Regions from separate parts of the Homo sapiens genome. Here all the other regions are linked to region 1. Evidence: fine-mapped expression QTL. A gene starts in region 1. Each other region holds a variant in brackets. All regions are shown on one strand. Distances are from middle to middle. Region 1 holds the start of ABCC4 (ATP binding cassette subfamily C member 4 (PEL blood group)). Region 2 overlaps ABCC4 (ATP binding cassette subfamily C member 4 (PEL blood group)). Region 3 overlaps ABCC4 (ATP binding cassette subfamily C member 4 (PEL blood group)). Region 4 overlaps ABCC4 (ATP binding cassette subfamily C member 4 (PEL blood group)). Region 5 has its middle 23 kb from the start of ABCC4.

What was found.
Region 2: its variant is fine-mapped to the expression of ABCC4 in memory regulatory T cells (Schmiedel 2018, PIP 0.95).
Region 3: its variant is fine-mapped to the expression of ABCC4 in blood mononuclear cells (TOPMed, PIP above 0.99).
Region 4: its variant is fine-mapped to the expression of ABCC4 in skeletal muscle (GTEx, PIP 0.98).
Region 5: its variant is fine-mapped to the expression of ABCC4 in spleen (GTEx, PIP 0.97).

Annotation. Positions count from the first base shown.
Region 1 is chr13:95,299,170-95,303,778 of GRCh38, reverse strand. ABCC4 (ATP binding cassette subfamily C member 4 (PEL blood group)) reads left to right here and starts at 2,328. Exons shown (of 31, transcript NM_005845.5): 1 at 2,328-2,538. The coding sequence starts at 2,465. It overlaps LOC102724149 (a long non-coding RNA gene), which reads right to left and starts at 2,828. Exons shown (of 3, transcript XR_429273.4): 1 at 2,516-2,828; 2 at 1,453-1,833. RefSeq lists silencers at 1,823-1,882, 2,063-2,122, 2,153-2,792 and enhancers at 1,609-2,383, 3,986-4,045.
Region 2 is chr13:95,175,463-95,180,071 of GRCh38, reverse strand. ABCC4 (ATP binding cassette subfamily C member 4 (PEL blood group)) reads left to right here. Exons shown (of 31, transcript NM_005845.5): 12 at 1,981-2,075; 13 at 2,279-2,365. Among named protein-coding and RNA genes, the nearest start is that of SNORD13G, 33 kb to the left of the region's middle. The variant C/G (reference allele first, on the strand shown) is at 2,807.
Region 3 is chr13:95,246,649-95,251,257 of GRCh38, reverse strand. ABCC4 (ATP binding cassette subfamily C member 4 (PEL blood group)) reads left to right here. Exons shown (of 31, transcript NM_005845.5): 2 at 3,505-3,615; 3 at 4,163-4,283. Among named protein-coding and RNA genes, the nearest start is that of SNORD13G, 39 kb to the right of the region's middle. The variant A/TA (reference allele first, on the strand shown) is at 2,752.
Region 4 is chr13:95,259,372-95,263,980 of GRCh38, reverse strand. All of the region lies in intron 1 of ABCC4 (ATP binding cassette subfamily C member 4 (PEL blood group)), which reads left to right. Among named protein-coding and RNA genes, the nearest start is that of ABCC4, 40 kb to the left of the region's middle. RefSeq lists enhancers at 926-1,045, 1,636-1,685, 1,806-1,865. The variant G/C (reference allele first, on the strand shown) is at 2,560.
Region 5 is chr13:95,322,470-95,327,078 of GRCh38, reverse strand. No RefSeq gene overlaps it. Among named protein-coding and RNA genes, the nearest start is that of ABCC4, 23 kb to the right of the region's middle. The variant T/C (reference allele first, on the strand shown) is at 2,636.

The DNA of each region.
Region 1 (4,609 bases):
CCTGTCTCCACCTCTCAAAGTGCTGGGATTATGGGCTTGTACAGCCTGGAGTGCAGTGGCACCTTCTTTTTTTTTTTGAGACGGAGTTTCACTCTTGTTGCCAAGCTGGAGTGCAGTGGGATGATCTCGGCTCACTGCAACCTCCGCCTCCTGGGTTCAAGTGATTCTTCTGCCTGAGGTTCCTGAGTAGCTGGGATTACAGGCATCCACCACCACACCCAGATAATTTTTTGTATTTTTAGTAGAGATGGGGTTTCACCATGTTGGCCAGGCTGGTCTCGAACTCCTGACGTCAGGTGATTCACCTGCCTCAGCCTCCCAGAGTGCTAGGATTATAGGCGTGAGCCATTGTGCCCAGCCCAGTGGGCACCTTCTTAACTCCTTGTAGCCTGGAACTCCTGGGCTAAAGCCATCCTCCTGTCTCAGCCTCTCGAGTAGCTGGGACTACAAGGGTACGCCACCACACCTGGGCTAATTTTTAAAACTTTTGGTAGAGACAGAGCCTCACTATGCTGGCTAGCCTGTGCTTGACTTTTAAATATGTGTTTGTGTAAGGCTTTCTTTAAAAGCTATTAACTATACTATTTTAGCAAATATACATGGGAAATTATCAAGGAACAATAAAATGATCTTGTTCCAAGCACCATGAACTTGGAGCCTTTCATTTTTTTTCATTCAGGGTGGATATGAAGAGCAGCTGCTGACCTTGTTAAGGTAGCCACAGAAATGACTGAAGACTTAGAGGTGGGAGTACACAAGCTTGGAACAAGATTTTGTTCATTCATTCCTACAGCCATTCAACCAGCATATTCTGGGCACTTCTCATGCACACTGGCCATCCACCAGGGAGACAGGCCATGCTTAGACATAGGCTTATTGCAAATCATGTTTTATCCTTTCTTGGCTCTAAGACTGGACAAGTTCTGCCTTTCAGCTTCACCTTCCTCATCTATAAAGTAAGGATAACCTTGAATGGGGCACTGATAGAATTAAAAGTGAGATAATTGGTCGGGCGTGGTGGTACATGCCTGTAATCCTAGCACTTTGGGAGGCCACGGTGGGAGGATCACTTGAGCCTAGGAGTTTGAGACCAGCCTGGGCAACAAAGTGAGAAATTATCAAGGAACAATAAAATGATCTTATTACAAAGAAAACCAAATTCTCAAACATGCATGAAATATGAAGAAAATAAACCTCCATGACAATCATTTGGCTTCAAAAATTATCAGTATTTGAACTTGGAGCCTTTGATTTTGATTTTTGCATCTCTACAAAAATTACAAAATATGAGCCGGGTGTGGTGGCGGGTGCCTGTAGTCCTAGCTACTTAAACTGAGTTGGGAGGATTGCTTGAGCCCTGGGAGGTCGAGGGTGCAATGAGCCATAATCGTGACACTGTGTGTGAGACTGCCACACACACACACACACACACACACTAGTGAGGCTACGCACTCAGAAATGCACATGAACATCACTGGTATTCTGGAACCCACGTGTCGTTTGCCACTGTTATCTGTTAGGCTTTAGGGCTTGACGACAGAAATCATCAGGCAGTCTCTCTTTCCTCTTATATTCCTTTCCCAATCTAAGGGGGCAGCAAAAAGCTCAGAGGTCCACCGTAGCATGCAACATGTGAGATGCCTAAAGCCCGCCCCCATCGACGACAGCATTCATCCATCTCCCGAATTCATCTGGGTCATACTCTCGAGTTACCCGGCTTTCTTGAGGTCTTGCAGCTCTACAAGGATAATCTGTGGCTAAACTTTGCTGTCGTCCAAGGTCAAATGTTTGGCTCACAGGTTGAAGAGCCTCCCATGGCACCGTCGTTTGGTCCTGAGAAGGGAAAGGCGCCCAGGGGGCGGGCTGCTAGAGCACGAGGCAGCTGTCTCCCAGTCTTCCCAAACCCGTAGCCGAGGGGGCGTTTCTGCGGCGCAGGGGCGGGCACAGCCGACGCCTCCCTGCTCCACCTTCTGTGTCGGCGCCTAGACTCGGATAGTGAATTTCGGAAAGTTTCACTCGGGTTCGTGCACGTGGGCACCTCCGGACCCGGCCTCCTTGCCGCGCGCTCTGCTACCCTCTCCATCCAGCGGCGCAGGCGGCCCTCGCCTCACCCCTGGGCGTAGCTCTGGGCTCCCTTTGGCGTCGCCAGCTTCGCCTCCTCCCGCCGCGTCTCCTCCCGCCGCGTCACCCGTCGGTCCCGGCCGCGCTCGCACGCGGTGCGCAGCTCCCGGGCTCCAGGCGGCGGCGCGTAGCGGGCGCCCCCGAGGCGGCGGGCCTGAGAGGCGGGGACGGGGCGTGCCGCCGGCGCCCGGCTCCCGGAAGCGGCTGCTTCACAGGCTCCAGCCGAGCGGACAGGCGTGGCGGCCGGAGCCCCAGCATCCCTGCTTGAGGTCCAGGAGCGGAGCCCGCGGCCACCGCCGCCTGATCAGCGCGACCCCGGCCCGCGCCCGCCCCGCCCGGCAAGATGCTGCCCGTGTACCAGGAGGTGAAGCCCAACCCGCTGCAGGACGCGAACCTCTGCTCACGCGTGTTCTTCTGGTGAGTGTCCCCGCCCGAAACAGGTCACCCTGCAGCCGCTGGCGCCGCGGACGCACTCTCCCGGGGCCGCGCCCGATGCTGCCCAAGCCCTCTGCGGCTGGGGGCGAGGGGAGCGCTTTCCTACGCCACGCGGTCCACGCCGGGGCTTTCTGCTGCGGGTGGCGCCGCCCCCACGCCGGCCGCGTGGTCCCTGCCTGCGCCCCGGGGCGCGGCGCAGGGGGACGCGGGGACGCGGGGCCAGTGGCTTTGCTACTGGAGGCCCTGCGGGCCCTTAGGGCTCGGGGGAGGAGGAGCAGGAGGTGGGGAGGCGGGGAACCCAGGCTGCCGAAAGGGGGAGTCTCTTGCCCAGCGGGAGAAGCGACTGCACCCCTTACACGCCCACCCTTCGCTGGCTCCCGCCTCCTGCTCTGGGACTCGCAGTCTCCTGAACTCAAACGCACCTTTTCCTTTCTTTTTAAGTAAGCAGCTTACGAACAGTTTCCTTTATCTGATCTCAGCCAAAGCCTAATTAGTGTCCTGGACCTATGCCATCTCCCAGTAGTGTCCCCACCCCTTCCGATATTCCTTACGAGACAGCTCGATCCAACTCCACGTCCCGTTGTACCTCTCTGTGTCCCGGTGTCTCTGTATCTTTTGTCTCAGTGACCAGGGCTCTCCTTTTGCCTCTTTGTGGGAATCTCACTGTGTGTCCATGTGGGTCGTGGTACCTAGTTATGGCAAGTTTCATGTGGGTAAAATAACACTATTATTATTTTTCATTTATGAATGGGGACCCTGTTCTTGAACAAGATTTTCCAGGATTTGCTTTTAACTGGGACATGCACCGCCACGACTGGAGTCTGTCTTTGACCAGCTTCTTTCCCCTGTTTCCAATACTTTCACTTCCACGTAGGAGGACAGCTCGGAGGTGGGGTCCCTGGAATCGCTAACCTTCAGAGAGGTGATCCATGGTCTTGATGCAGGTGGTTCCTACCAGGAGTTCTACCTTCTTAAAACCACCCCAGGGCTCCTGAGCTGGGAGGGCCCACAGCCCTACCCATTTTGTGCAAGGAAACAAACGGAGAAAGACTCGGGTGACAGTAGTAACTAAAATTTCCATCTTGGCCTGGCGCGGTGGCTCACGCCTGTATCCCTGCACTTTGGGAGGCAGAGGTGGGTGGATCACGAGGTCAGGAGTTCGAGACCAGCCTGGCTGACATGGTGAAACCCCGTCTCTACTAAAAATACAAAAATTAGCCGGGTGTGGTGGAGCACGCCTGTAATCCCAGCTACTCAGGAGGCTGAGGCAGGGGAATTGCTTGAACCCAGTAGGCGGAGGTTGCAGTGAGCTGAGATCGCCCCACTGTACTCCAGCCTGGGTGACAGAGTGAGACTCCGTCTTGGGGGAGTGGCGGGTGTGTGTGGGGGAATTCCGTCTGCTAACTACATAAGCCTGAACCTTTGAAGGGCTTCAATCTCACTTGGATGATTATTAGATCTTCTGTTTCTTGACCTCTGCCGCCTCATCTTTCCCACATGTTGATATTGCCTTTTATTATGGGACAACCTAGGGTGGGGGTCTCCAATTTTTTGGGTTCCCTGGGCCACACTGGAAGAATTGTCTTGGGCCATACATAAAATACACTAACACTAATCATACACTAACACTAATGATAGCTGATGAGCTAAAAAAAAATCGCAAAAAAAAATCTGATGTTTTAAGAAAGCTTACGAATTTGGCAGCCCATGGGCCTCAGGTTGGACAAGCTTGACCTAGGGGATTCCAAGAGGATGAGTCGCTTACTCTTGTTTCGATTGTGGTACACTCAGTGGGTGTAGGAACTTCTCTTGGTTGTTTGGCGGCCTTTCTCTTAAGGAGAGGGGCACGTGGAGGAGGAAGGAATATGGGTGTGGTTTCTGCAAATAATAACTTGAGGTAGACAAATGGTCTCCTCAACTTCAGGCAGGGCAAGGAACTTTTTTTTTTTTTTTTTGAGACAGGATCTTGCTTTGTGCAAGCTGTGACCCAGGCTGGAGGGCAGTGACACATTCATAGCTTGCTGCAGCCTCCAACTCCTGGGCCGAAGCAATC
Region 2 (4,609 bases), 120 kb after region 1:
TTTTTTCCATTTGGTGATGTACTTTATTTAGTGGGATTCATGCTATGAATGGGGTCCTGCTGTTGGTTTGATCAGAAAATATGTCATAGTCATCAATAGCAAATGATAATGAACTCAGATCCTTTTTTCACTTAGAGAGTTCATACCCTTACTTTAGATTGTTCCGGCATTCTATGAGTTTATTAATTCTTGTTTCTCCAGGATATTTTGTAAAAGAGATAAAATGAGAACTTAGGGAGGTCAGAGGATTTGCTTGTCATGGAGATCTCAATGTGCCATTTGCTTTGTCTCCCCGGCTTTGTCAGAGTAGAGACAAAGAAATGACACCTTGATCTGTAAGAGGGCTATCTCTGTAGTGTCCTAGGTTGATGCTTATGCAGCTCAGTCAATACCCAGCGATGTTCTCCACACCTTTTGTCTATGCTAGGATCTGTCTAGTGATAATTATAGGCCATCCAAGTAAAGATTTCTAATGTAATGTCCTGTAACTTAAACCTGATCATTATCCTGTTATTTTCAGGGATGTTCTTGTCATGTTTTTTAAAAAAAGTATTATGCTTTGTCAACTTATTTCTTAAATAATTTTTAAATATAACTTTGGTTGGATCCTCAAATAAAAACTTGTTTTCCTTCCTAGCTTTTGTTTTTTGGGGTCTTGCATGGAGCCAGAGTCTACTTAGTGCAACCAGTCTGTGCAGTGTCTCATGAGCACTCTGCTCCTTTCCCTTTGGCTTTTCCTGACTGGGCTGCTCTTTCTGCTCTTATTCTTTGCAGTTTTTTTTCTGTCAGTCTATTGTGATGCCTTAAGCATCACTGTGAAGATGGGGCGGGTGTTATCCCTTCTCTGAGAATGGAAAGCTGAGGCAAAAGTCGCAAAATGGCTTGTGAAGACACAGTTGTTCCTTAGTAAGTCCCGTGGCTTTATGCTGACAGCCCTCACGGTTGGGTCTCCAGCACAGACCTCCAGACTCACTTATCCAGCCGCAAGTCAGGATAGCCGGTCAGCATTTCAGTTTGGCCATAATCAACCTTTTGATTTTATCTCTTGAATCTGCGTCCCTCATTTCCCCCAGCTCAGTAAATGGTAACCCTGTTCTTCCCTTGTCTTACACCAAAACCAATGCAGTCCTCCTCTTTTTCTATCACAACACAAACCCATCTCATCAGCAGATCCTATAGGTGCTACCTTTAAAATTTGTTCAGCACATGACCACTGATGTTCACTTCCTTGTTCCCCACTCCGGTCCCGGCTACTGTTGTTTCTTGTCTCAATTATTGCCTTGATCAGATCATGTCCTTCCTCCTATTTCCCTGGGTGTGAGCCCTTGGCTTCTCTTGCCTCTGTCTCTGCCCTCCCCTGCCATCATCCTGTGCTCGCAGTTCCGTGTGCATCCATATTGCTCTTCTGTGAACACCTTGGGCACGTATCACCCCATGGGTTTTGTGCTTGCTCATTCCTCTATGGAGCACTCTTCCTGCACTCTGTGCCAGCCAGTCCATCCCCTGACAGGTCTCTGCTCAGACCCCCTCGATCAGAGCCCTTGTTGACCTCCCTATATAAAGTGGACTTTCCCTCTGTCACTCTGTCTCCCTAAGCCAGCTTCCTTCTCCTTCTTAGCACTTATCACCTCTTACATTTGTGTCAATCTTTTATTGTCAGGTCACTCACTGTGGAAACTCTTTCGCTGCTGAATTCACAAGGAGTTGCTGCTCAAAAAATTTCTGTTAAAATGGCTCAGTGCATAAATGCTATGAAAAGCTACAGCATTAAAATAGATAACGTGCCCTGACTGTGTATTTGATAGGTTCAAACTTACAATTTAGTTACTATGAAATATTTCCATTGCTGTTGATCAAATACATGTAAATTTCTGAAGAACTAATGTGCAAAGTTTAGGATAACTTTGGAAGAACACAAAGAACAGAGGAAGAACATGTTTTAAGTCTCTTTTTCCCCCCTTCTTTCCTTTGTCCATACAGGATTTACAGCTGTTGGAGGATGGTGATCTGACTGTGATAGGAGATCGGGGAACCACGCTGAGTGGAGGGCAGAAAGCACGGGTAAACCTTGCAAGGTAAGTTGCATTTCAGCAGCCACTATGCCGGTGTCTTTTGATACCTTCCAGTGGTGGTGAGCACATAGGACCTGCTTACTGTGTATTGCGTCCTGTGTGAAGCACCTTCTTGGGTTATTCTGTTGGCATTTGAATGAACATCCCAGTTGTTGAAAGTTGTCATGTTCCTGGGTGAGAGTCTGATACCTCTTTGTATTTTCTAGAGCAGTGTATCAAGATGCTGACATCTATCTCCTGGACGATCCTCTCAGTGCAGTAGATGCGGAAGTTAGCAGACACTTGTTCGAACTGTGAGTGTGTTTGTGTCTTAAGTCATTTCTGCTTTTCCAGAGCCATTTCGAGTTGGCTCAGGAAAGCCTTTATGGCTTTCAGCTCATCCTACTCTGGTGTCCGCTCCCCTCCCCACACTGTCCCCTGCTTCCCTGAAGATCCATTTTAGAGAAATTTTGCAGAAATACAAGGTCAAGGTAGGAAAATACACAAAGTGATTTCAGTGTGTTGCAGTGAGTGGAGTGTATCATGTTTTAGGGAGTTGAGAAACAGATGGCAAATTTTGCAAGTTTTCCCCTACTAGTAATTACAGTTGATAACCAAGAAACTGCTGATGGACCAGGCCCCGGAGATAGGAAAGATGGTACTCCATTTTTCAATGGAAGGGTGGCACTTGGCAACCTGAGCCTTGTCTTTCAGCTCTTTTCCTCCATCATTTCTCTATGACAGGTTAGAAGTGA[C/G]GTCCTTGGGACCAACATAGGGCTTTCTTGGGAAGGCTTTGTTGCTCTTTACATACTAATCTGTCAGTTTGGAGATAACCTACTAGTAAAATCTAGAATTTAAGAATGATTTGCTCCATAGTAGACTGTGGTTTCAAGAATCTAATGTTGCTTCATGGATTCTTACCAGAGTGAACACTTAAAACCCACAGGCATGTAGGCCTGGCTTGCCTTTGAAACTAGTTGTCTAGAATCTGGCTTCCCTCCCAACTCTTACGTGGTGTTTCTGGGATTTTCTTTCTTTGGCTCTTGCTTAGACACTGAGCCATGGAGGTAGAACTACTCTGGAATCTTTTCTGTATATTCTATAAACTCATGTGTGCCGACTGACACTTCCTACATAGTCTAGACTGGCCTTTTTGAAAGCATTGTGAACTGGTTTTGCCAAAACAGCACTCACATCTGCCCCACAGTCAGCTTCCTGTTTTTCGCCTTGTTAAAGTCAGTGAGCCTTTCCCACTCATTGTAACCCTTCTGCGCACACTGAGGTAGATGCTCCTGCAGATGCTACTGCATGAAACATCTTCGCTTGCAGAGGAGGGCAGTCAGCCACAGAGAAGATAAGCACCCATGCTGGGCTGAGTGAGAGAGAGACAAGTTCAGATTTCATTCTTGCCCATAAGGAATTTGTCTCTGCATGGATCAAGACTAAGTGCATGGGAAAAGTTCAACAGACCCCAAGGCTTAGGGGATTTCAATATAGGACAATCTATTTTATTATTATTTTTTTTTTAGATAGGATCTCGCTCTGTTGCCCAGGCTGGAGTGCAGTGGTGCATTCTCAGCTCACTGCAGCCTCGACCTCCTGGGTTCAAGAGATTCTCCTGCCTCAGCCTCCCGGGTAGCTGTGACTACAGGCTAGCACCACCATGCCCAGCTCATTCAGTGTTTTTTTGAAGAGAGGGGGCTTTGCCATGTTGTCTAGGCTGGTCTCCCTATGTTGCCCAGGCTGGTCTCGAACTCCTGGGCTCAAGGGATCCACCCCCCCCCCCCCCCCCCCCCTGCCCTCGGCTTCCTGGAGTGCTGAGATTACAGGTGTGAGCCCCTACACCTGGCATACGACAATCTTTTTTTTTAAATGGAAGAAGTGGGCAGCAGAGATTGGAAAGGTCACTGAGGGCCGGGCTTGGCTGGAAGTAGCCTGTGGTCCTGCAGGCTGGTAAGGGTTTGTGGTGGCTGAGAGTAGGATTCAATTCCTTTGAAAGAAATAGTAGAAGCAGAGGTGTGCAGACGGGAAGGAGTGAGGCCTGTGGGAAGGACAGCAGGCAGGCACCTGTTCCTGTGGTGGGGGATAGAGAAGGTACCGTGAGAGAAAGCTCTGGAAGTCCTGTGTTGGCCAGCCAGGGCTGCCCTCACAAAATGCCACAGGCTGGGGGGCTTCCACAGCGGCAGGTTGTTTCTGCAGAGTTCTGGAGACTGCATGTGTGAGATCAATGCATCTGCAGGTGCAGCTCCTCCCGAGGGCTTTCTTGGCCTGCTGATGGCTGCCTTCTCACCCTTTTCTCCTTGTGTCTCTGTATCCAAATCTCCTCTTCCTGAAAAGACACCAGTCAGATTAGAGTAGGGCCCACCCTCATGGCCTCATTTTAGTGTAATTACTTCTCTAAAGGTTCTGTGTTGGCCGGGCACTGTGGCCCATGCCTGTAATCCCAGCACTTTGGGAAGCCGAGGCAGGCAGATCACCTGAGGAGTTCGAGACCAGCCTGGCCAACGTTGTGAAACCCCATCTCTACTAAAAATACAAAAATCAGTGGTGGATGGTGG
Region 3 (4,609 bases), 53 kb after region 1:
AAGAGAAAGTGAGGGGATTTACCAAAGATAAGTTAGCTTTTATTTCCTCCTTTACTTGTGGCTATGGGGAACATGAAGCTCATAGAAACTGAAGACTCAGGTCAGGGTCACAGAGACAGGGAGCTGGGACCTGTGTTTTCCCTCTTATACCACATTAAGAAACCACTATTGGCCAAGCTTGGTGGCTCATGCCTGTAATCCCAGAATTTTGGGAGGCCAAAGTGGGAGGATCACTTGAGCCCAGGAGTTCGATACCAGCCTGGGCAACATAGAGAGACCTGGTCTCTATCAAAAATAAAAATATTAGCCAGGCACAGTGGCATGTGCCTGTACTCCTAGCTACTTGGGAGGTAGAGGTGGGAGGATTGCTTGAATTCAGAAGTTTGAGACTGCTGAGCTCTGATCGGATCTGAGTGAGCTCTGATCGCTCCACTGTACTCCATCCAGCCTGGGCAACAGAGTGAGACTCCATCTCAAAAAAAAAAAAAAAAAAAAAAAAAGAAACCAGTATTCAGAACTTCTCAAATCCTTGGGGGAAAAAACAACAAAAACTAAATGCCACCACCACCAACAATAAATAACAAAACTCTCTACTAACCCTTGTCTAAGACTCCTGCTTGCTGGAAATGATGCTGGGGGTTGTGATCCTGGGGTGGAGAATGTCTCTGTATTGCTGAAGCTGATGGCTTCCTGTGTTGGGCATTGAGCACGACTATGCTATATTGAGTTTGTATTGAATTTTACCCTAGATCATTGCTCAAGGTACTCTACCCATCTGTCTTATTCAATAATACAATCATTCATTCTTTCCATAACTGTTTATTGAGTATCTATCACATACCAGGCATAATGGGGATTCCAAATAATATGGCAGTAGTCATTGCCCTGAAAGCATTGTACTCCTAGTAGGACAGTTAGGAGGGAAGCGATGCTGCTGTACTAAGTATTGTGGGAGATAAGGGGGAGAAGAGACTAAGTCTGAGGAGAGAAGGGCTACTGGGGCAGAACTGGGTGGAGGAATGGCTCATTTGGCAGTGGTCTGGAATTGTTGACTAGACCCCCTCAGGGACACATTGGTATTAAGGAGCCAACTGACTTAGATTTCCATGTATAAAGTCCTTACATAGATGGTCAAAGATAATTTAGTCTCTTGTCAAAGTTGACTTTTGTCATCAGGCAAAAGCCTTTAGCTCTTGCTGGTACCCACATCTTTTCAGCCCAGCTTTTTGAGATCTGGGCAATGAGAGAGAGTAGGAGGGTCCTTGTTAAGTCCTTACTGATTTGTGTCATCCTCTAATAGAAGCTTTGGGTCTCTTCTGATTGCAGATACTTTAACTCAACAGTGGCATCCCTCCTTGTTAATATTTCTAAATGTTATGCAGTTAACTGTTCAGCCTGTGGAACAGAGTTACCATTCTCACTTTCCTTAATTTTTTAACTTCCTGGAGCCAGTTTTATTCCCTGATTAAAAAAACCTCTTTAGTCCAAAAAGACACCAGTGAATTTTACTTAGAAGTCCTTGCTGAAATATACTGTATGAGGTTCTGCTGGAAGGGAGGTCTCGGGCATGCAGAGGTCATCTCAGGCATGTCTGGGAAACCCACCTAAGTTGAAGCTGGACTGGTTAGGTTACAGTCTTCTGGACACATTTTGGAGGAGGTGAGGAGAAAGAGGTGAGTTGATGAGTTCTTCTTGCCATTGGGTTAATTAGAATTGCTAGTTTGGATCAGCAGGAGGTTTCCGGAATCCTGAACATAACTTGGATACCCCTGCAGTGTGTGCTCCAATCTTACGGGGCATTGAAAGCCCACCATTTCACTGCAGGCAGAAGCCACCAGGCAGTGGGTTCCCCATGGGAAGGGCTTCCTAGATTAGACAATCCCCATGTTAAAATAAAACATGCCTATTAAAGGTGACACATGGCCAGATAAGACAGCCAAGATGAAAGAAGTTTGTGTAATTGAGTAATTGCATCTATCAAAGTTATTAGAGGTTTCCTTATAGGGCACAAATATGTTTCTTCTTCTTTTTTTTTTTTTTAGACAAAGCCTTGCTGTTCTGCTCAGGCTGGTGTGCAGTGGCGATCACAGCTCACTGCAGCCTTGACCTCCTGAGCTCAGTCCATCCTCCCACCTCAGCCTCTGGAATAGCTGGGATCACAGGCTTACACCAGTACATCTGGCTAAATTTTAATTATTATTTATATTTTTTATTGTTTTGAGATAGTCTCACTCTGTTGCCCAGACTGGAGTGCAGTGGCATCGATCTCAGCTCACTGCAACCTCTGCCTCCCAGGCTCAAGTGATTCTTGTGCCGCAGCTTCCCGAGTAGCTGGGATTACAGGCATGTGTCATCACACCTCGCTAATTTTTATATTTTCTTACTAGAGATGGGGTTTTGCCGGGCTGGTCTCGAGCTTCTGGCCTCAAGTGATCCGCCTACCTCAGCCACCTAAAGTGCTGGGGTTACAGGCATGAGCCACTGCCCAGCCTTTTTCTTTATAAGTTTTTAGTAGAAGTGGGCATCTCACTATGTTGTGTAGGCTGGTCTCAAACTCCTGGGCTCAAGCCATTCTCCCTCCTCAGCCTCCCAAAGCTCTGGAGTTACAGGTGTGAGCCACTATGCCTGGTGCATGTTAATTATTATCATTTAATGATTAATGATGTTAATTATTATCATTTAATGATTAATAATGTTAATATCATTTAAGTGATTCCTAATGGATGACCATTTTGATTTTTCTTTTTTTTT[A/TA]GTAAAAAGAATCTCAAAATATTTGAATAAGTTCTTTCTGTCCTCTGCAAGATTACTATTTTGTCCTTTCGTAACTAATAAATAATTTGTACCTAGATAATTTTGGATTATGTAAATGTCCCATCAAACCTTCACTGACTGGTTTTAGCTCCCATTGAAAATGTTTTCTAACCTCATCATTCTTTATCTGAGAGTTTTTCCTTCTTACCCCATTTATGTCTCAGTAAGGATTCGTGGATTCTTTTGTTATTCAGTGGGTTAGAATTCATTGCTGTCATGATTTATTTGGATGCTTCCATTATCACAGACTTGTCTAGTGGGACCCCGTCAAGCTGGGTCCTCTGTTCTTTGGGCCCATCCTCTTGATTCCTTGAATGTTTCCTTATCGTATGGTATCTCATGGGCCATCTTTTTCTGCCCCAGCCTTTGAATCAGCTATTTCTTCAGGAAGCTCTGGTTCCTTTTAGATAATAATGGTTTTGGAAACCAAGATCTGGGCACCAGCATGCTCTCAGCTACTGGTGTGTCATTGCTTCTGGGGCCTGTCTGTGGATAGAGCTAGGGACTGTGTGTGTGTGTGTGTGTGTGCACATGTTAACTTTTCTCTCTCTAGCTCTATATATTCATATCTGTCTGTCTATATATAGCTGTATGTATTTTAAAGGTAAGTTTAAGCAAAACCCATGGAGGTAGGAGTCTACTTAAACACGGATGTGTAATTCTGGATATATGTCTCTTTTCTCTTGTTAACAGGTGGCTCAATCCCTTGTTTAAAATTGGCCATAAACGGAGATTAGAGGAAGATGATATGTATTCAGTGCTGCCAGAAGACCGCTCACAGCACCTTGGAGAGGAGTTGCAAGGGTAAGTCGGAGGCAGTAAAGTGGGCATTAAGGAAGCGTGGGTGTCTGTGTGTGGGGAGTGGGTTTTGCCTTCCTGGGTCCTGTCTGGAGCCTCCGTTTACCCTTAAGGTGAATATGTGTCACCTTCCTCAGGCTGCCCCTAGGCTCAGCCTACCATGGTGGCCTGGGGGAAACTCCTGTTGCCTGTGCCTCCGTAGAGGTCAGGGGAGCCAGCACCAAAGGCCCGAGATGCCTGAGGTCTGTCCCTCTAGGTGGAAGTGTTGTGGTTGGAGGAGGTTGTCTGGCTTATCTGTGCTACTGATGGGGCTTCAATCCAGTAAAGCTTGGCAGTAACTTGTTTCCCCAGACTTCCCCTCAAGGCCTGTTTTTCTGATGCTCCAGATTCTGTACCACACATAACCTTCAGGAGCCCTGGGAGCAATTAGTAGCATTTATGAAATCGTCACAAAATGCCCTGTCTTAAATGCATACCTGTCACTCTGCCATCTCCCCTGTTTTATATTGTGGCAGGGTTCACTCTTATTTACGAAGCTTTTTCCTCATTGTAGGTTCTGGGATAAAGAAGTTTTAAGAGCTGAGAATGACGCACAGAAGCCTTCTTTAACAAGAGCAATCATAAAGTGTTACTGGAAATCTTATTTAGTTTTGGGAATTTTTACGTTAATTGAGGTAAAAGCTTTTACATACCATGAATTGTTTTTCAGGACACATAGAGTAAATGTGCTCGCCATTGACTGGTGCTGTAATGGATGGGGGAACAGAAGGGAGAAGTGGCCAGATGGGGTTTGAAGGTATTTTAAGGTCTAAGGATTAAACATGTCTAGGAAGTATTAGGTAGTTAGTTCAGTGAGCGTATTTATCCAGGTGAATACTTAAGTGACTGAAGTTCAAGGTCATTATTGTTTTTCTTGTAACCAATTAAAATGCAGTGTCATGGAAGAAGAGTATTTTATTCTATGGTAGGACAATGTTGGTGCTCGGTAAATGTTTTAAAT
Region 4 (4,609 bases), 40 kb after region 1:
TAGTTCAGACATGTCTTGTACTTCTTCTGCCCCGATCTTGGATTCAGCCATTTCTCAAAAGAGCCTCTGCATTAAAAAGAAAAGTTACATATTCTTTTTCATAAGTGGATACTATATTTAGAAAGAGTGCTGGGTACTATGCATTTTTTTTTTTTCTTTTTTGAGACAGAGTCTCTGTTACCCAGGCTGAAGTACAGTGGCACGATCTCGGCTCACTGTAACCTCTGCTTCCTGGGTTCAAGTGATTCTCCTGCCTCAGTCTCACAAGTAGCTAGGATTACAGGTGCATGCCACCATGCTGGGCTAATTTTTGTATTTTTAGTAGAGACGGGGTTTCACCATGTTGGCCAGGCTGGTCTTGAACTCCTGACCTCAGGTGATTCACCCACCTTGGCCTCCCAAAGTGTTGGGATTACAGGCGTGAGCCACTGTGCCCGGCCTAGGCATATTTATTGTTATGGGATCTCATTGCTTCTAGGAACTCTAAGCGGACAAAGCTAGAATGTATTTGCATACACAGATCAACACATATTATTTATATATTTGTGTGTATGTGTATATATATACACACACATATACATATACAGTTGGTTCTTGTTACTAGTGGAGCTCTATAAAGTCTCCACAAACACAGGACTAGTGAATACTGAACCATTGCTTCCAGGCGAAATACAGGGTTAGGTTCCTATGCGCCTTTGGTCACATTTTTGTCAGCCATTTAATATATAACCTTGTTTTATGCATGTGTCTGCTTAGAGACACCTTTTTTAATATATAATTAATCATTAACCTTGAATTAACAGCCAGCAGCACTATAGTTCATGCCTGAAGGAAGCTTCTGTAACACACGTTTTTTTCTGTAGGGCACATTACACCCGCCTTGCGCTTTGATGCACTAGACTGCACTTGAGCATGATGCTTGGGGCCACTTTAGACAGCGAAGTCACCCACAAAAGTCCCCAAAATGTGAAGAACATGGTACTGAACAGCCCACAAGAAGGACAGTTGTTTCTACTCTAAGAGCGGGAATAAGAAGGCAGAGTGTCAGCTGGGCGTGGTAGCTCACACCTGTAAATCCAGCACTTTGGGAGGCCAAGGTGGCTGGATTGCTTGAGGTCAGCAGTTCGAGACCAGCCTGGCCAACATGGTGAAACCTCGTCTCTACTAAAAATACAAAAAAATTAGCCGGGCATGGTGGCGTGTGCCTGTAATCCCAGCTACTCAGGAGGCTGAAGCAGGAGAATCGCTTGAACCCAGGAAGCGGAGGTTGTGGTGAGCCGAGATCGCACCACAGCACTCCAGCCTGGGCAACAGAGTGAGACTCCGTCTTGGGAAAAAAAAAAAAAAAAGTCTAAGTGTCATTTCGTTTGACTTCAGCTGGGAGCATGCATGTTGGGTGACTCAAATATTTTGCTACTCTGTGCATGTCCGTGAAGGACTGCAAGACACCTGGAGGACTGATTTTTGGGGTTACAATTTAGCAAGTAGGCAAACTCACAAATACAGGATTTGTCACTAAAGAGGATCAGTGTATATTGATTTCTCTATCTTTATTTAGGTATCTATTTATATAGATCTGTATTAGGAAACAAATTAGATAGACTTCACACCAGTGCTTCAAATCACAGTTCAAAAATCTCATGCTTTGTTCTGGTTCTCCCTCTTTCCATATTTGTATCTTCATCCTTCAGTAGTGAGAAACTTGACTCCTGCTGTCCTCAACACGTTGACTTCTTTGCTCAGTCCTCTTGTTTGTCACCAGGGCCCCAGCCACGTGGGCCATCTCCTTGCAGAGAGTGTTCCTGGGACCTGGTGTGCGGGGCCCCAGGGCTGTGCTCCCAGGCTGCTGCTTGTGAACTTGCTGAGAGCTGCCCCCCAGGCATGTTGCCCTAGGCTGGCCTCCCAACCTAGTGGATACTTTTGATCATTGTTCACTGTAACCTCAAGCCCCTGGGCTCAAGCATTCCTCCTACCTCAGCCTCCAGAGTGGCTAGGACTACAGGTGTGTGCCACTGTGCCCAGCCAATTAAATTTTTTTTTTTTTGTGTGGAGAGAAGGTCTCACTATGTTGCCCAGGCTGGTCTCGAACATTTGGGCTCAAGAGATCCCCCTGCCTCAGCCTCCCAAAGCGCTGGTATTATAGGCATGAGCCACCATGCCTGGCTTGAAGTTAATTTCTTATTAACGTTTTCAGTATCATTAGAATATAGTAATGCAGTAGATTTTTGACTGTTTATTGGTATTGTACATCTTGCACCTCTAATGTGCTAGCTTACTGTCTTCAGTCAATGTAGGATTGGAGTTCTAATTGTGTAAAACTCTGTATATAAGGTTTATTACTTTTTTTTGTGTTTTTTTCTTCTTCAATAGCCATGTCACCATTAATACTAGTAAATGGATAAGCCATTCCTTTCTAATATCTTGTTTTAATGACAATGAATTTAAGATATGTTTTGTGGATAAGAAGAGCTGCTCATAGATACAGCTTTTTATGTTACTGCTATGCTAGTTCTAGGTAATTTCTTTTTTTTGATAGGGAGTCTTGCTCTGTCGCCCAGG[G/C]TGGAGTTGCAGTGGTGTGATTTTGGCTCACTGCAACATCTGCCTCTTGGGTTCAAGTGATTCTTCCGCCTTAGCTTCCTGAGTAGCTGGGATTACAGGCACGCACCACCACGCCCAGCTAATTTTTGTATTTTTAGTAGAGACGGGGTTTCGCTATTTTGGTCAAGGCTGGTCTTGAACTCTTGACCTCAGGTGATTTGCCCACCTCGGCCTCCCAAAGTGCTGGGATTACAGGCGTGAGCCACTGGGCCTGGGAATTCTAGGTAATTTCAGAGTAAAAAATTTGATTTAGAGTTGCTTCTTCCTTTTCTATGAAATAGGACATTTACAAAATTGTTTTTGAAAAGATGACTTGGGTTGCGATGTTTTTCTTGTTTTGAGATCCTAGAGTAAATGAGAAATAGGATGTGGAATTTTAAACTGACTTCTTGTGCATCTGCTTATTTTTGTGGTAGAGTCACAGAGTTACGACCAAGCAGGGGAGGTGAGAATTGTGCAGACTGGGGATATTGGGAGGGTGAAGGGATCTAGTTTGCTTGAATAAAAGGATGCAAGTCACTGTATTGGTGAAGTTTCTTTCAAATCCAATTCCTGACTGATTTCCTTGCCTTCCACAGTTCATCATATACAAAGTAGCTTAAAAACATTCACAATTTCCCTGTTATCTTTAGGATAAAGTCCAACTTTCTGAGTTTAGAACACAAGACCTTTGATTACCCCATTATCACCCCAGACCCCATGCAGCATTTTCTCTGCTGTCTCCAAGCAATAAGTCTTGGCTGTGTGGCTCCATTTTTCTGGAAAATTTGTCCCTTCTTCCTCCTTTGTCTTCTTGGTAAACTCCAAATTCTTTTCCTAAAGTTTGCTCAAACTGTGTCCCTTTCTCCAAACCCTCTCCAACTTCCCAGGTACCTGACTATACCCTCTTTCTTCTCTCTACCGTACAGATGGTTCCCAGACCTGGCTGATAACCAGGATGTGCTGGGTGAGGGGAGCTTTTTAAGGACCGCCACTTGGGTTTCATCTTGGCTTGTTCTGATTCAGTCATTTAGGTTGCGGTTCTAGGTGTCTGTGGGTTTTTGTTTTAAAATTCCCCAGGCATAATTGGGTAACATATTGAAGTTTACCGAAAAACAAAACAAGAAACTCCCCAGTAAAACTCCCCAGGCTGAGGTAGGGATTTTGCTAATGAGCCAGGGTTGGGTTGGGAGTATTGGCGTATATGTCAGACAAGTGCTTCCCATTTGGTGTGTCAAAGCAAGCTGTATGGCACGTTCTCAAACCTGAACCTGCATCCGCATCACCTGGAGAACATCAGAAGATACAGATTGCAGGGCCCCACTCTCAGAGTTCCTGATTCATAGACCTGGAGTGGGTCCTGAGAATTTGCATTTCTAACTCTTCAGGGGATTCTGGTGCTGCTGGTCCAGAGATCACACTTTGAGAAACTCTGCTGTACAGAAGATGAGTCTCGTGAGCTGGGATGTTGATCCCTTAGAAAGCCCAGAAGTAGAGTCTGTGCATAGCCTGTGTCCACATGTGTCCCATCTTTTTTTTTTTTTTTTCCCCACACTACACAGATGTAACATGTCCCATCTTACTGTAATTCTTTGTTAACATAGATGCCTTGAACTCTTGGAGTGGAATTGAACCGGTGGATTTACTAATGGGTTTATATCATTTGCTAACGTGGCTAAAAGACTGCTGTCATTGTCTTGCAACTTCTGTCTGAGGTCAACATTTGATTTAAGATTCTATAGCCTGTCCAGAAAGGCTGTAAAAAACTTTAGTGCGGTGGTTCTGATCCATGTGATTTTGCCACCCTGGCAATGCCTCAGATAATTTTAGTTGTCAGGACTTGGGATGGGGATGCTGTTGGCTTCTTGAGGGTGGGGTTCAGGGATGCTGTTAACCATCCTACAGTGCACGGGACGACACCCCCAACAAAGAGTTTTTCAGCTCCAAATGCCAGTAGTGCTGAGGCTGAGAAACCTTGCCTTAGGGGAAGGCGTTTCTTTTTTTCTTCCTTTTTTTTTTTTTTGAGACGGAG
Region 5 (4,609 bases), 23 kb before region 1:
ATACTTTGAAGGGTGAGAAAAGTGGAATTTATTAGGCAAAAAGGAAAAAAAAAAATCTTAGAAGAGCGAGAGAGTTTCCTGTCAACTGGCCCCACCTCATACAGACTGAATTCTCGGGTACCACACCTCAGGAACAGGAGAGAAAGGCCAGGCTCCTCTCTGCTGCAAAGGGCATGAACTTCCCGCCACTCCACCCCATTCTCCCAGTGTACCGGCTGGGCGGAGGTTTTCCAGGCACCTTCCCCCATGATACTTGGCTGTCTCACTACAATATTGATTTATAATGTGTGGTTAAGTATTCATAGGACATCACCAATGACACTTTCATCTATTGCCAATTTTAATAGTCATAAATGTATTGATTCCTTGGAAAGCAATTTGAAAGTTCTGATTTTCTCACTGCACAAAAATTCTTAAACATATACACTATTTGTAGAGCAATCAGAGCCAATCATAACATGAGTTACTTGTAGCCACATAATTTCAAAAGCAAAATCTCTTTGAAAATGTCTGTATGCCTGGCACGGTGGCCCATGCCTGTAATCCCAGCGCTTTTCAAGGTCAAGGCGGGTGGATTACTTGAGATCAGGAGTTGGAGACCAGCCTGGCCAACATGGTGGAACCCTGTCTCTACTAAAAATACAAAAAATTACCCGGGCATGGTGCTGCGTGCCTGTAATTCCAGCTACTTGGGAGGCTGAGGCAGAAGAATCGCTTGAACCCAGGAGGCGGAGGTTGCAGTGAGCTGAGATCGCTCCACTGCACTTCAGCCTGGGCAATAGAGCCAGACTCTGTCTCAAAAAAAAAAAAAAAGAGAAAATGGTTGTAGGCTAGGCATGATGGCTCTCGCCTGTAATCCCAGCACTTTGGGAGGCCGAGGCAGGTGGATTACTTGAGGTCAGGAGTTGGAGACCAGCCTGGCCAACATGGTGAAACCCCATCTTTACTAAAAATACAAAAATTAGCCAGGTGTGTTGTCGGGCGCCTGTGATCCCAGCTCCTCAGGAGACTGAGGCAGGAGAATTGCTTGAGCCCGGGAGGCAGAGGTTGCAGAGAGCCAAGATCAGGCCACTGCACTCCAGACTGGGTGACAGAGCAAGACTCTGTTTCAAAAGAAAAAAAGAAAGGAAACAAAGGAAAGGAAATGAAAGGAAAGGAGAGGGGAGGGGAGGAGAGGGAGGGAGGGAGGGAAAGAGAGAGAGAGAAAAAAAAGAGAGAAAGAAAGAGAAAGAAAAGAAAAGAAAAAAGAAAATTGTTCTAATAAAAAACATGTGTAGGATGTAAATGATTATGACATGTGATATAACATGCAGTGGGACCCACTGAAAGTATCCAGAGCCAGGGCCAGCTTTGCAGGCAACTGACCTGTGCATTTAGCACGAGGTCACAAGTTCATAAGGGCCCCGAGACTGGTTTAATGCTCTGCTCTCATCTTGGAAGTCTTTCTTCCTTCCTTCCTCCTTCCTTCTCCCTTCCCTTCCCTTCCCTTCCCCCTTCCCCCTTTCCCTTTCCCCTTTCCCCCTTCCCTTCCCGTCCCCCTCCCCTCCCCTTCCTTCCTTCTCTCTTTCTGTCTGTCTTTCTGTCTTTCTTTCAAGACAGGGTCCCATTTTGTTGCCCAGGCTGGAGTACAGTGTGACCATGTAGCTCAGTGCAGCCTCTACTTACTTGGTCCAAGTGACCCTCCCATCTCAGCCTCCAGAGTAGCAGAAACTACAGGCATGTACCACCACACCAGCCTTGGAAGTCTTCGTAATTTTTGAACAATGAGCCACACATTCTTTTTTTTTTTTTTTGATATGGAGTCTCACTCTGTCACCCACGCTGGAGTACAGTGATGTGATCTCAACTCACTGCAACCAACGCCTTCCGGGTTCAAGCAATTCTCCTGTCTCAGCCTCCTGAGTAGCTAGGACTACAGGCATCCACCACCATGCCGGGCTAATTTTTGTATTTTTAGTAGAGACTGGGCTTCACCATATTGGTCAGGCTGGTCTCAAACTCCTGACCTCGGGTGATCCACCCACCTTGGCATCCCAAAGTGCTGGGATTACAAGTGTGAGCCACCACACCTGGCCATGCCACACATTGTTATTTTGCTCTAGGCCCTACAAATTACGTAGCTGGTCCTGTCCAGACTTTACAAAGATTTTAAAACAGCCCTGTGTGGAGCTCTGTATCCAGTAAAGCTGTGTTGCTTCCCTTTGCAACACAAAGGTTTGTTTTTTAGGTCCTGTGTTTAATTCACTTGAAAAATGTGTGAGATTTTGTGTTTTTTACAAAGTAGCTAGATTTTAAAAGTTAGGGAATTACTGTACTATATAGAAAGACAAAACTCCTAAGCAAAGATACAGACCCACATTACTAAGGCATTAGAAACAGCAACAAGAATTTACGAAAAATAAAATGTACTTCAAAATTAAATCCAGGCTAAGCACTTCAAAAGGTCCAAATGGCTTCCAGGCTAGGAACCAAGAGTGAACAAGCATTACCTCCACAAATTAAATTTGAAGTGGCTGTAGGACATTTTCATCTAATTTAGATAAAGTTTTAAAATGGTCCTATCCACAATCCATCAAAGTACTGTCTAAACAAAGGCCAGCATTTTCTGTTTGGGGAAACCAGGGGAGGAAAAACC[T/C]TCGGGCCACATCCTGCTGATATCATTGAGAGGCTCAATGGCAGGATAAGGCCCTGAGTGTTCGGTCGGCCACACTGAGCCCTGAGCCGCAGCTTTTCTCCCACGCCCTGAGGAGTTGCCAGGGCCAGGTGAGGACTCTGCCATTTGTTGGATATGAAAGGAAAGCTCAGGGTAAGGCTTGGTGAGTGAGTACTCCCTCTGGATGAAGTCCAAGTGGTCCTCGGGCAGTACGAAGGGAAGGCTGGGCATTAGAAAGATGTGGGCTCATTACCATCTTCGTCACTTCTACTACTTCAATAACATTTATTTTAATTTGCTGGCTCATGAGTTTTTTGTTTGTTTGTTTAAAAATGTATGTTCATCAGGCCAGGCGCGGTGGCTCACGCCTGTAATCTCAGCACTTTGGGATGCCAAAGCGGGTGGATCACCTGAGGTCGGGAGTTCGAGACCAGCCTGAGCAACATGGAAAACCCAGTCTCTACTAAAACTACAAAATTAGCCGAGCGTGGTGGCACATGCCTGTAATCCCAGCTCCTCAGGAGGCTAAAGCAGGAGAATCACTTGAACCCTGGAGGTGGAGGTTGCAGTGAGCTGAGATCGCACCATTGCACTCTAGCCTGGGCAACAAGATCGAAACTCTGTCTCAAAAGAAAAATATATAAGTTCATTGGCCGGGCGCGGTGGATCACATCTGTAATCCCCGCACTTTGGGAGGCTGAGGCGGGTGGATCATGAGGTCAGGAGTTCAAGACCAGCCTGGCTAAGATGGTGAAACCCCATCTCTACTAAAAATACAAAAATTAGCTGGGCGTGGTGGCAGGCACCTGTAATCCCAGCTACCGGGAGGCTGAGGCAGAAAATTGCTTAAACCCAGAGGCGGAGGTTGCAGTGAGCTGAGATTGCACCACTGCACTCCAGCCTGGGTGACATATATATGTATGTATGTTCATCATGGACAACTTAGAAAAATATTAAAAAATAGAAAGAAGAAGAAATGACCCATAATTCTATTTCTTGAAGAAAAACCACTAGATCATTAATACTTGGGTGTGTTTTTTCTGGTCTCTTTTCCACAATATTGTTCATTTTTACCTAGAAGTGTAGAAAATATATACCCTGGCTGGGTGCAGTGGCTCACGCCTGTAATCCCAGCACTTTGGGAGGCCGAGGCGGGCAGATCACGAGGTCAGGGGATCAAGACCATCTGGCTAACACGGTGAAACCCTGTCTTTACTAAAAATACAAAAAATTAGCTGGGTGTGGTGGCGGGTGCCTGTAGTTCCAGCTACTGGGGAGGCTGAGGCAGGAGAATGGCGTGAACCCGGGAAGCAGAGCTTGCAGTGAGCCGAGATCACGCCACTGCACTCCAGCCTGGGTGACAGAGCCAGACTCCATCCCAAAAAACAAAAAAAAAAAAGAAAGAAAATATATACCCATATTATATATTTAATTTTGTCCTTTTTCCTCTTAAATGGCATGGTACAATCAGGATAAATAGGAAGGTTGATATAACAGGGTTGAAATAAGTCCAAATTATAATTTATTAAGTTAAAAGTGACTAAGCTTATCAAATAAGAAACAGAAATTTTCATATTGGTTGATAAAGAAAAGCCAGACCTTGGCCAGGCATGGTGGCTTACGCCTGTAATCCCAGCACTTTGGGAGGCTGAAGGGGGTGGATCACCTGAGGACAGGAGTTTTGAGACCAACCTGGCCAACATGGTGAGACCCCGTCTCTACTACAAATACAAAAATTAGCCAGGCATGGTGGTGCATGCCTGTAGTCCCAGCTACTCAGGTGGCTGACACAAGAGAATCGCTTGAACTTGGGAGGCGGAGGTTGCAGTTAGCCAAGACTGCACTCCAGCCTGGGCAACAGAGCGAGACTCCGTCTCAAAAAAAAAAAAAAAATAAAAAAGCAGCAAAGATGGCAAGATAAGGAATTAAGGAGAACATATTCAGAGATAAATTGTT